2 separate regions of the Homo sapiens genome follow, and region 1 is linked to region 2. The links come from fine-mapping of genetic effects on gene expression. A gene starts in region 2. The other region holds a variant in brackets. All regions are shown on one strand. Distances are between the middles of the regions. Region 1 has its middle 75 kb from the start of C1QL2. Region 2 holds the start of C1QL2 (complement C1q like 2).

What was found. PIP is the estimated chance that this variant, and not a neighbour inherited with it, causes the effect.
Region 1: its variant is the best candidate, but not a certain one, in a credible set for the expression of C1QL2 in lung (TOPMed, PIP 0.56).

What each region holds. Positions count from the first base shown.
Region 1 is chr2:119,080,969-119,086,341 of GRCh38, reverse strand. No RefSeq gene overlaps it. Among named protein-coding and RNA genes, the nearest start is that of C1QL2, 75 kb to the left of the region's middle. RefSeq lists a silencer at 489-655. The variant C/G (reference allele first, on the strand shown) is at 2,589.
Region 2 is chr2:119,155,399-119,160,771 of GRCh38, reverse strand. C1QL2 (complement C1q like 2) reads left to right here and starts at 2,021. Exons shown (of 2, transcript NM_182528.4): 1 at 2,021-3,186; 2 at 3,791-4,529. The coding sequence starts at 2,503. The coding sequence ends at 3,970. RefSeq lists an enhancer at 2,843-3,653.

The DNA.
Region 1 (5,373 bases), 74 kb after region 2:
GCTATTTTTTTCATCCTAAACACAAATGCTTTAATTTCTTGTCTTTTTTTTTTTTTAAACAAGAGTGATGTTTTTAAAATGCAATCTCCACTCTAATCTTTACCACTTTTGAAAGGCTCCATTTTTTTTTTTCTCTTTTAACCCACGAAGTTATCTTTGGTGCCGGGGGCAGTACCCCTGGAATGTTCCTTTGTCCTCTCAGCTGTCTCAGGCCGGAGGTGGATGTTTTTTCTTGCTATTTGTTATTCTTTTTGTCATAGAACAGATTGCTCTTGGCTTCTCTTTATTTGCTCCTTTGTTGGTTTATTTAGAAAATAGGGCCAGTGTAGTCCTACCATGTCAGACAAATCCAGGGAAAATGAGAATAATAATTTTAAAATTACTGTTAGTGATCATCTACAATATGCCAGATACTGCACTTGGTGTTTTACATGTGCTTTTAAGTTTAATCCTTGCGGGCCAGGTGCAGTGACTCATGCCTATAATCCCAGCACTTGGGGAGGCCGAGGTGGGCGGATCATCTGAGGTCAGGAGTTCAAGACCAGCCTGACAAACATGGAGAAACCTTATCTCTACTAAAAATAAAACATTAGCCAGGCATGGTGGCGCATGCTTGTAATCTCAGCTACTCGGGGGGTTGAGGCAGGAGAATCACTTGATCCTGGGAGGTAGAGTTTGCGGTGAGCTGAGATCAGGCCATTGCACTCCAGCCTGGGCAATAAGAGCAAAAACTCTGTCTCAAAATAATAATAATAATAACAATAATAATAATAATAATCCTTGCAACAGCACTGTGAGATAAGTATTGCCAGCTTCATCTAATTGATGAGGCTCAGAGACAGGTTATGCAACTTCCTGAGGTCACACAGCTCCTAGATGCCAAAGCTAGAAGTCAAAAGCATGTCTGGCTAAATCCTCAGCAAGATCTCCAGTACTTCACAGATGTTGCTTCCTGCTTAGTTCCTCATGCCTGGAATGCAAGAGCTTCTTAGGTAGCACCTTCTCATATAGCTTCTCCTGGCCCATATCCCTGGGCATCCAAAGCCACTTGCTTGAAGAACTCCAGAGACCAAAGGGTGGCAGTTTTGGAAGTTTTCTCTTTGATTTCATTGTCACGTCTATATTAATGTTAGGCTTCTGCATGATCATTAGTGTTGCAACTTAACTCTGCTTGAGATGTTTTCACCCACATTAGAAGCATCCTTGCCTCTCTTGGATCACCTTTGTGGAAAACCCCATCCATTGCCTTAGGACAACCATGGGGCTTGAAGTTGTACCCAAATACATGGGCGCAGCACCTGGGGACAGGATATTGTTGTGGTCCTGCATTTCTTCCTCTCCACCTTTGGCCCAAGCATCCCAGAATGGGCCCCAAAGTGAACATGGACAGGCACTTCGTCCTGCCAGAGTCAGAAAGATCCCCCATCCCTACCACACATTGCCACCATCATCAGAAATTCAAAGACAAAGGCACCAGGCATCGGGAGGTGTCTAATACGCTTAGGATAGAATACCAGCAAGAGGGGGAAACACAGAAAATGCTGAATTGTGAAGTTTGGTCTAAAAATCTCTCCCAGCTATTTGGACCAAATCCAGACCTAGCGGCCTCTGAGTGAGCTGAGTAATTGCAGCTCAGTCTTCCTCCATATTCTCATCACGGGTGTCCCTGTGCACCGCCTTCTCAGGGGGCTGATGCACCTTCCATCTTCTTAATACTTCCAGCTTTTTCACCTACTCTACACAAATACTGTTTATTATGCAGTACCAGGTTGCCATTGTTTTGTTTTCATTGCATTTATTTTTGTAGTTACTGTCCATTTCAGGAAAATAATGTTTGTTTTCCATGGGGGATAGTGATATAAAGTTTTATTTTAAAAAAATGTATTTAAGCAAGAACAGACAGTTCGTGTAAAAATATGAAGATATGATTATACAGATGCTATGAGGAGATGAAAACAATAGTGCACGTGGTATAGAAATAGGAGATATTGCCCTGTGTAATTTTGAGGGATGAAATAGAGGAGAGAGGAAACAATTTGAATTAAAATGCTGCACTGCAACAGACTAAGGAGGTGGCAGTGGGTGCCGGTTGGGCATGCCTGGGTCAGATGAGCAGTTAAGTGATAGGAAAGAACCTTGGAAACAAACTCTCTCCAAGAGCTGGGCTGGCTTATACGTGGCTCCAACCCAGCCCTGGTCACAGACGTGGGAAACTTTTTTTTTTTGTTTTTTGAGATGGAGTCTTGCTCTGTTGCCCAGGCTGGAGTGCCGTGGTATGATCTCAGCTCACTGCAACCTCCGCCTCCCAGGTTCAAGCGATTCTCTCTGCCTCAGCCTCCTGAGTACCTGGGATTACAGGCATGTGCCACCACACCTGGCTACTTTTTGTATTTTTAGTAGAGACAGGGTTTCCCCATGTTGGCCAGGCTGGTCTCAAACTCCTGACCTGAGGTGATCCACCTGCCTTGGCCTCCCAAAGTGCTGGGATTATAGACATGAGCCACTGTGCCTGGCCAGATGTGGGAAACTTTAATGTACGAGGTCCCTGAGAACTTTGGAACCAGGTCGGCTGGTGGCCATGTGGACAA[C/G]TCCTCCTCGTGACAGTCATCGACCGTAGTCCCTCACCTGATGGGCCCTGTGTAGGCATTGTAGGGGGCTCTAGGAAGCTCAAGTAATCTTTGTCCAGTTACCTTTCAGGGCCTGTGGCTGAGCTGAGGCAGAGCCTCTGATGACTGTCACACTCGGCACAGGCCCTTGGGAGGAAGGAGGGCCAGGCAGGGCTGGGGGTGTCACATGTTCCACATGATGGACTTGAAGGAGAAATTTCAGGATGAAAAATTAAATGAATGCCACAAGAGCATCGAGGCAGAGGCAGGGTACAACCAGAGGGACACACAGAGGCTGTGCTCATCACTGAGTGGCAGGGGTGGGGGTCCATAATCACGCCTCAATTTTTGAGTGATTAAAATACTGGCCATGCTAGGAAAGTCAGTCTGACTGGCATTGATGGAAGAAAAGGGTTGTTTGATGGAATCGACTTTTAAGTTCATCAAAACAAAGAGATAGAGAGAGAGCAGCTGCTTTCTCTACAGGCCAAATAAGAAGGGAAGAAGCAGTTGCAGGAAGCGGGTGAGAGGAGCCACAAAGCAGAACAGCTGGAGATGAGAGAACCCCGTGGGCTGTGAGCATTGGGAGGGGCCTTGTTCAGTCCCTGGGTTAATTCTCTTCCCAATGCCTATCCCTTGTCCCAGCTAACAGAATTCTCATACAGGCAATGGAGCATGGTTGGCCTAAGCCAGTCAGGACAATTCTGTTTCCGTTTTCCCAGATGCTCCTCTAGCTGGGGTTGGGGACGTGAGACTTAATCATGGCCAATGAAGAACAAAGCATGTCTCCTGGAGGACTCTACGAGAGTTTTACTGTCCTAATAGAAAGTTCAGATGAGCCTGGTGCTGTCTTCGAATCCGTGTCCTGCCTTGAGCACATTGGATGTTCTAGAGCTGCAGCAGACGTTGTGTGATCCTGGGTGCAAGCCAACACGCCCATGGTGGCAGAGCAGGAAAGTAGAAAGAGGTTGGAATCTTTGATGATGTCACTGGGCCACTGCACCAAGACCAAAGCAGTCTAACTCTGGATTTCTTGTTATGAGAGATAATTAATATATTTATTGCTTAAGCCACTGCTTGTTAGTGTTTTATTACTTGCAGCTGAAAATCCTCCTGGTGGATACATGCTTGATTTTACAGAGGATCCTTAGGCCAGGCAAGGGGCCAGGACCCACCCAAGATCACATAGTTGATTATAAGTTCCCTCAACGGACTTCAGACTGTTTCTTGAACTCTCCAACCCTGGCTGCAACCAACTAGGTTAGGCCCATGCCTCTAGGCTCTTCTCAATCTCAGTGCTCCCCCTAGTTGATTCTGCCTTTGGTGCTTGATAAATCTTACTCAAACATAATTTTCTTTACCTTGGTTTCCTCATCTCTTTCCCTTATCATAGCCCACAGTGGGGGCAGATTTAAATTCCAGGTCCTCTCCCTGACATCACTGTCCTGTAACCCTGACTGAGGTGTAGGTCTCCATACTGCACTACCCCCCAACCATGACCACCTGGTTTGGACGCTTTTGTTCTTCTACCTTGACTCTTCCCTGCTTCTGCCCTGTTGATTGCTGCTCATTCTATGAGGCCCACCTCCTCCATGAGGCCCACTCTGACTGCCCGGGGTTCTAACTTGGAATCTTATATGTTCATGAATGGATTCTTTTAATACTAGCACTTTACCTTATACTATCTTTTGAATATTTTACTAGTACTTTCTTGGGAGAGAAAGTATCTGTATTCTGCATCTTTGGGCTACTTCACAGTTTCATGGCATATAGTAGGTAATTGAAAAATACTTAGAAATTATAAATTTGTATAACATGACAAGGTAACCCACACAATGGGAGAAAGTATTTGCAAATCATATAACTGATAGGGGCTTGTATCCAGAATATACAAAGCACTCTTGTAACTCAATAATAGAAAGATAAATAACCCAATTTAGAAATGACCAGAGGATCTGAGTAGATATTTCTCCAAAGAAGATATACAAATAGCCAATAAGCACATGAAAATATGTTCAATGTCATTTGCCATCAGGAAAATGCAAATCAAAACCACAGTGAGGATGGCTATAATAAAAATACAAATAATAACAAGTGTTGGTGAGAATGTGGAAAAATTGGAATTCTTGTATACTGCTGCTGGGAATAGAAGATGGTGCAGCTGCACTGGAAAACAGTCTGGCAGCTCCTCACAGAGTCAAGAATAGAGTCACCATCTGATCCAGTAATTCCACTCCTATGTATAGACCCAAGAGAAATAAAAACTTGCACCCACAGAAAAAAAATTGTACTTAAATGTTAATAGTGGTATTATTCATAATAGCCAAAAAATGAAAACAGCCCAAATATCCATTGACAGCTGGATGAATAAATAAATGTGGTATATCCACACAATGAAATGTAATTCAGCAATGAGAGGTACTGACACATTCTACAACATAAATAAACCTTGAAAACCTTATGCTAAGTGAAAGATGCCAATTTCAAAAGTCCACATATCATATCCACTGATACATACCCATTGACATTAAATGCTTAAAAAAGACAAATCTGTAGAGACAGAAAAGTAGATTAGTGGTTGCCCAAGGCTGGGAGGTTTGGGAAGTGGGTGATGGAAGTGGCTCCTAATGGCAGGGTTTCTTTTTGAGGAATGAAAACATTCTAAAATTGATTGTTACAGAATTCTGTGAACATACTAAAAAAAAAAAAAAACCATTGAATTACATACTTTAAATGAATACATTATATCACATATGAACTATATCTC
Region 2 (5,373 bases):
GAAACCAGTGAAGACTGTGGCCAAGAAGTAGCTGTTGAAGCTGTGTTCACTGACAGGTTCAGATAGCCCCTGATCTGGGTGCCGGGAGGATCCTGGCTCTGTCATGTGGGTAAAATGCACTTGGCAAACACCCTACACTTGCAAAACCTTTTTTTTTTCCTCATTGGTGCGGTGGGAAAATGATCACTAATCCACAGTAACATGAGGAATGAATGAAGGAGCACGTGCAAAGTGCCTGATGCATACGTAGTAGGTGCCAATAAATGTGCTCCTTCTCTCCTTGGTAAAGTTGGCTTCCGGCTAGGCTCAGTCATCCTTTCCACAAATATATGTGGAGAGAACAGGCTAGAGCAACGAGGTTGGGAGTGGGGAAATGACCCAGGGTGATCAGAGGACAAAAATAGATTTTAATTAACCCGTAAGAACCTAGTGCAGGACAAATGAGAGTTAGCTTCAAAGCAATAGCCTTAGGTGGGTGCACTGTTGTTCCAGAGATGCTGATGCTACACCAAACACTGACACCAGCCCTTAGATTCTCCCCCCAGGACAGGCCTGGTGTGATTCCCATGTTGGGGGTGCTAGGGCAGGAGGCGGCCTTTTAAGGAAACTGAGTCTCAGGGACAGGAACCACCTGGCAAAATCACACAGCTACTCAGGGCAAGAGCAGAAGCTGGGGCTTTGATTTCTCCGCTGGAAGTCTCTCCCACACCGGCGGGCCTCTCATCCTTCCTTAGCCTCACATGCTACATTGGAGATAGACTATTCTGCTCTCATCTGAGGCCATGGTTTATTCAAGACTGGCTCAGAATGGCTTTGGACTATTTGGACTATTTTCTAAAATAACTAAACCCATCTCAGGAGGAGGAAGCTGGGGATGTCCAAGGGAATGTGCCCATGCATCTGCCTGGCAGTGGCCGGGCTTGGAGTAGAAGCTGAGTGCACCATGATCACTGCCAAGTGCCGGCATCAAGCATTTGGTTTCTACACCAGCTTCACGCAGAGGACAAGGGCCAGCCATTTTCTGGTGGAAGAAAAGGTCTGAGGCGAATATTCCTTTTTTTTTTTTTTTTTTTTGAGATGGACTTTTGCTTTTGTTGCCCAGGCTGGAGTGCAATGGCACGATCCCGCCTCACCGCAACCTCTGCCTCTCTGGTTCAAGCGACTCTCCTGCCTCAGCCTTCCGCGTAGCTGGGATTACGGGCATGCACCACCATGCCCAGTTAATTTTGTGTTTTTAGTACAGACGGGGTTTCATCATGTTGGTCAGGCTGGTCTCAAACTCCCAACCTCAGGTGATCTGCCCGCTTCGGCCTCCCAAAGTGTTGGGATCACAGGCGTGAGCCACTGCGCCCGGCCGCAAATATTCTTGTATTGGGAGCCTTGGGCTTTTTAGAGTCACCTCAGAGGTTAGTGGGGTGCTCTACGGGAGCCTGTTTAAGAGTCTGGAGTCCTTAGTCTAGGTTTGCGAAAGATCTTCCAGAAGCGAGATCTATTCAATTCTGAAGAAATAACTCAGGAGGTCTTTCAGAAACTCCTTCCCGCTGGACCTCACGGGACTCTCCTGGACTCGGTGGGTTGAGGTTTGATCCTCTTTGCAGGCCAGGGGATGGATTAGGTGACCCCAGAGGAGCCCTGCTGACACCTGGATTCCAGCTGCTTTCGTGGCCATGTGGGGGTGGCTGTGCGTGCCCCGCCACTGCGTGCGTGGGTGTCTGTGTGTGTTATCGGTGGGGGGCGCGTGAGTGTGGCCGCGGGTGGGTGTGTCCGATGTGCCCCGGCTTGGGACCGCGCCCGCTGCGCCCACTTGTGGCTCCTGGGAGCCGCCAGGGGGAACCGCGCCTTCACCGCCTCTGCCGAGGACGCCGCCAGATAGGAGGCTGATGACATGAGGGCTCCGTCTCCCGAGTGATGGCAGCGCGCGCTGCTTCGCCGCCTCCGCCGCTCAGCCCCGGACTCCTTACGTCAGGGTAGCGGGGTCCCCCCTCCGCGCGGGAGCCAGCGAACAGCGAGAGAGCACAGCAGAGCGCGCCGCGGAGCCGGGGCGCCCTCACTGCGCTAGGAGCCCCACTAAACCCAGCGGAGCGGAGCCTGGCGGGAGGCAGCGCCGCGGAGCCAGCGCCGGACGCCGCAAGCAGACTCCCCGGCCAGCGCAAGCACTCCCTGGCCGGCGCCGGACCCTCGGGGCGCCGGATTCGTCTTGTGTGCCCCACGTCATGCGCGCGGGCGTCCGCGGCTCTCCCGACCAGCCCCAGCGCGGTGGGCCCAGGCTCAGAGGTCCCGGCGCCTCTCGCTGAAGTAGTTGGGTAGCCGGGGCTGGGGGTCGCCACGTCGGGGGCGCGGCCAGGACCCGCGGAGCCGGTCCCCGAGCGCGGGGAGCGGGGCCGCCCGCGCCGCCCCACCATTACCTCCCCGGGCGGCAAGGAGGAGCTGGTGGCGGTCGCCTCCCGGCTGTGGCAGCGGCGGCGGCGTGCCTGCCTGGCGGCCGTCGGCGTACTCTTGGCCATGGCGCTCGGGCTGCTCATCGCCGTGCCGCTGCTGCTGCAGGCGGCGCCCCGAGGCGCCGCGCACTATGAGATGATGGGCACCTGCCGCATGATCTGCGACCCTTACACTGCCGCGCCCGGCGGGGAGCCCCCGGGTGCAAAGGCGCAGCCACCCGGACCCAGCACCGCCGCCCTGGAAGTCATGCAGGACCTCAGCGCCAACCCTCCTCCTCCTTTCATCCAGGGACCCAAGGGCGACCCGGGGCGACCGGGCAAGCCAGGGCCGCGGGGGCCCCCTGGAGAGCCGGGCCCGCCTGGACCCAGGGGCCCTCCGGGAGAGAAGGGCGACTCGGGGCGGCCCGGGCTGCCAGGGCTGCAACTGACGGCGGGCACGGCCAGCGGCGTCGGGGTGGTGGGCGGCGGGGCCGGGGTAGGTGGCGATTCCGAGGGTGAAGTGACCAGTGCGCTGAGCGCCACCTTCAGCGGCCCCAAGATCGCCTTCTATGTGGGTCTCAAGAGCCCCCACGAAGGCTATGAGGTGCTGAAGTTCGATGACGTGGTCACCAACCTCGGCAATCACTATGACCCCACCACGGGCAAGTTCAGCTGCCAGGTACGCGGCATCTACTTCTTCACCTACCACATCCTCATGCGCGGCGGCGACGGCACCAGCATGTGGGCGGACCTCTGCAAGAACGGGCAGGTCAGTGACCCCTACACTCACCGGCCCCCGTAAACCCTCGCCCGCGCCCTGAACCTCCCAGGGAACCAGCCTCCTTTCTCTCCACCCGCGGGCTACCCTGCGAGCCCCGGGAATGAACGCGCCTCGGTGCCACAGTATCTCCGCTTCCCGATGCGCCGAGGCCGCGCTCACCGGGACGTAGAGCCAAATGTTGGGCCTTGAGAGCCCAGAGACCCCCATACCTAAACTACACTCCTTGGCCACTTGCGTCCCTGCCTGCCTCTCCGTGGGCTTCTCGGAAACCTCAGTTCTTTAGTTCTCTCCAGGTCGCCCCCTTGCCCTGCAGCCTCCTTTCCTCTTGGCCCTGGCCCCTGGCTCCCACCCTTCCACTCTGGGTCAGTGTTCATGAAGCTTCCCCTCTCCCTATTTCCCAGACTCGTCGGCGCGAGGAGGAGGGGGGACCTGGAAGGAGTTGACTAAGTTGGAGAGAGAACATGGAGCTGGGGTGGGAGTGTGGACCCTGAAGCAGCAGGCGGGAGGCCCGTGAGTGGCGCGCCTGGTGTGGGCTGAGCAAAGGCGCGGGAAGAGGTGCCCCGGCTCACCTGCTCCCACCGCTTGTCCCCAGGTCCGGGCCAGCGCCATTGCACAGGACGCCGACCAGAACTACGACTACGCCAGTAACAGCGTGGTGCTGCACTTGGATTCAGGGGACGAAGTGTATGTGAAGCTGGATGGCGGGAAGGCTCACGGAGGCAATAATAACAAGTACAGCACGTTCTCGGGCTTTCTTCTGTACCCGGATTAGGGGCGCGGGGGGTGCGAGGCGGGGTGGCTGCAGGCCGCCCGGTCTCCGCCCGGGCGCGGCTCCTTGGCAAAGGCCACTCTCGATTCATAACACTTCCTGACATCTCCTTTGGAAAAGACAAATCCCTGCGTCCTCCCTGCCCCGCTCCTGGCCTCAGTGCGTCTGCGACCCACCACGCTCAGGGCTGTGCTCCTGGTCTCCATCCCCATCCCGGCAAGGGAGGAAGGGACGCCCGAGCCCTTGAGGCGGCGGCACAGACTTTGCAAACCTGATTAGACTGGACAGGCAGGGCCGGGAGCCTGCCCTCCTCAGACAGCCTCCTCCCAGTGCCTAGAAGCGGAGGGCTCCGGGCCCTGGCCAGGGAGGTAGGCCAGAGGGAGCGCGGGCTTCCTGGGGCGTCCTTCTTTGTGACCCGAAATACTTGTGCAGATTTCCCTGTCCATCAGCCAAAACCCCACCCACAGCAGAATTCCAGCAAACAGAAAATTCACCTCTCCACACCGCATTCCCTCCTGACTCAGACTCACCGCGATGCATTAAATTATGTTTTTAGACTATGCGTTCTGTTGTCTGTATGTCGACACATCCTGGACCAGGGCTCCAGATGTCCGCCTTGGCATAAAGACCTTACCTGGGCCCAGGATAGGCCCATCTATGACCTGCTCCCCAGCCGCTGCTATGTCCCTGCCACCAGAAGTTGCCGAAAAGACATGGGGTAAATGGGAGCTGCATCCCACCCTTCCCAGAAGCTCTCCCCAGGCTGCAGCCCTGAGCTGGAGAGGCCGGAGGTGGGGTTGGGAGGAGGGGAGGAGGCGGGGAAAGGCATCAGGGAGAGTTAGAGGAAAGCAGGAGAGGAATGATTGGGTCTCCAGTCTTGGGCAACTTGGGCAACTTAGTCCTCCCGGAGTTGTGGGTGGAGGTCAGAGGGGAGGGGCTTCTGGGGAAGGAAGGGGAAGAGAAGGCATCTATGGGAAATGGGAGGCGTGAGTGACACTTGCCGGGGAGGGATCTGTAGGATGTTTGGCTCCTAAAAGGAAGTGCAGAAGTCCCTAGCAGACACACACCCGCTCGAGCGGATGGTTCACTAAGCACAGGCCTGTTTACTCACAGCCGCCAGGGCCACCGCTCTCCGGAGAGCTGGTAAACTGAGGCAATTCCGCGGATCATCCAGCTTGCTGAACTTCCTCAGGGCTGTGTGTTGAGGTGGACACCATTCCTTGGGGAGGGACGCCTCTTTCCTGCGGGCTTCCCTTCCCTTATGCATGCGATTTGGGGTGCCTGCTCTGAACCTGAGTGTGTGTGTTTGGTGTCCCATCAGCATTCTACACACACACAAGTTAGGAAAACACCCCGCATGGTTTTGATTTTTTTCTTTTTACTTTTTTTTTGTTGTCAGATCACTG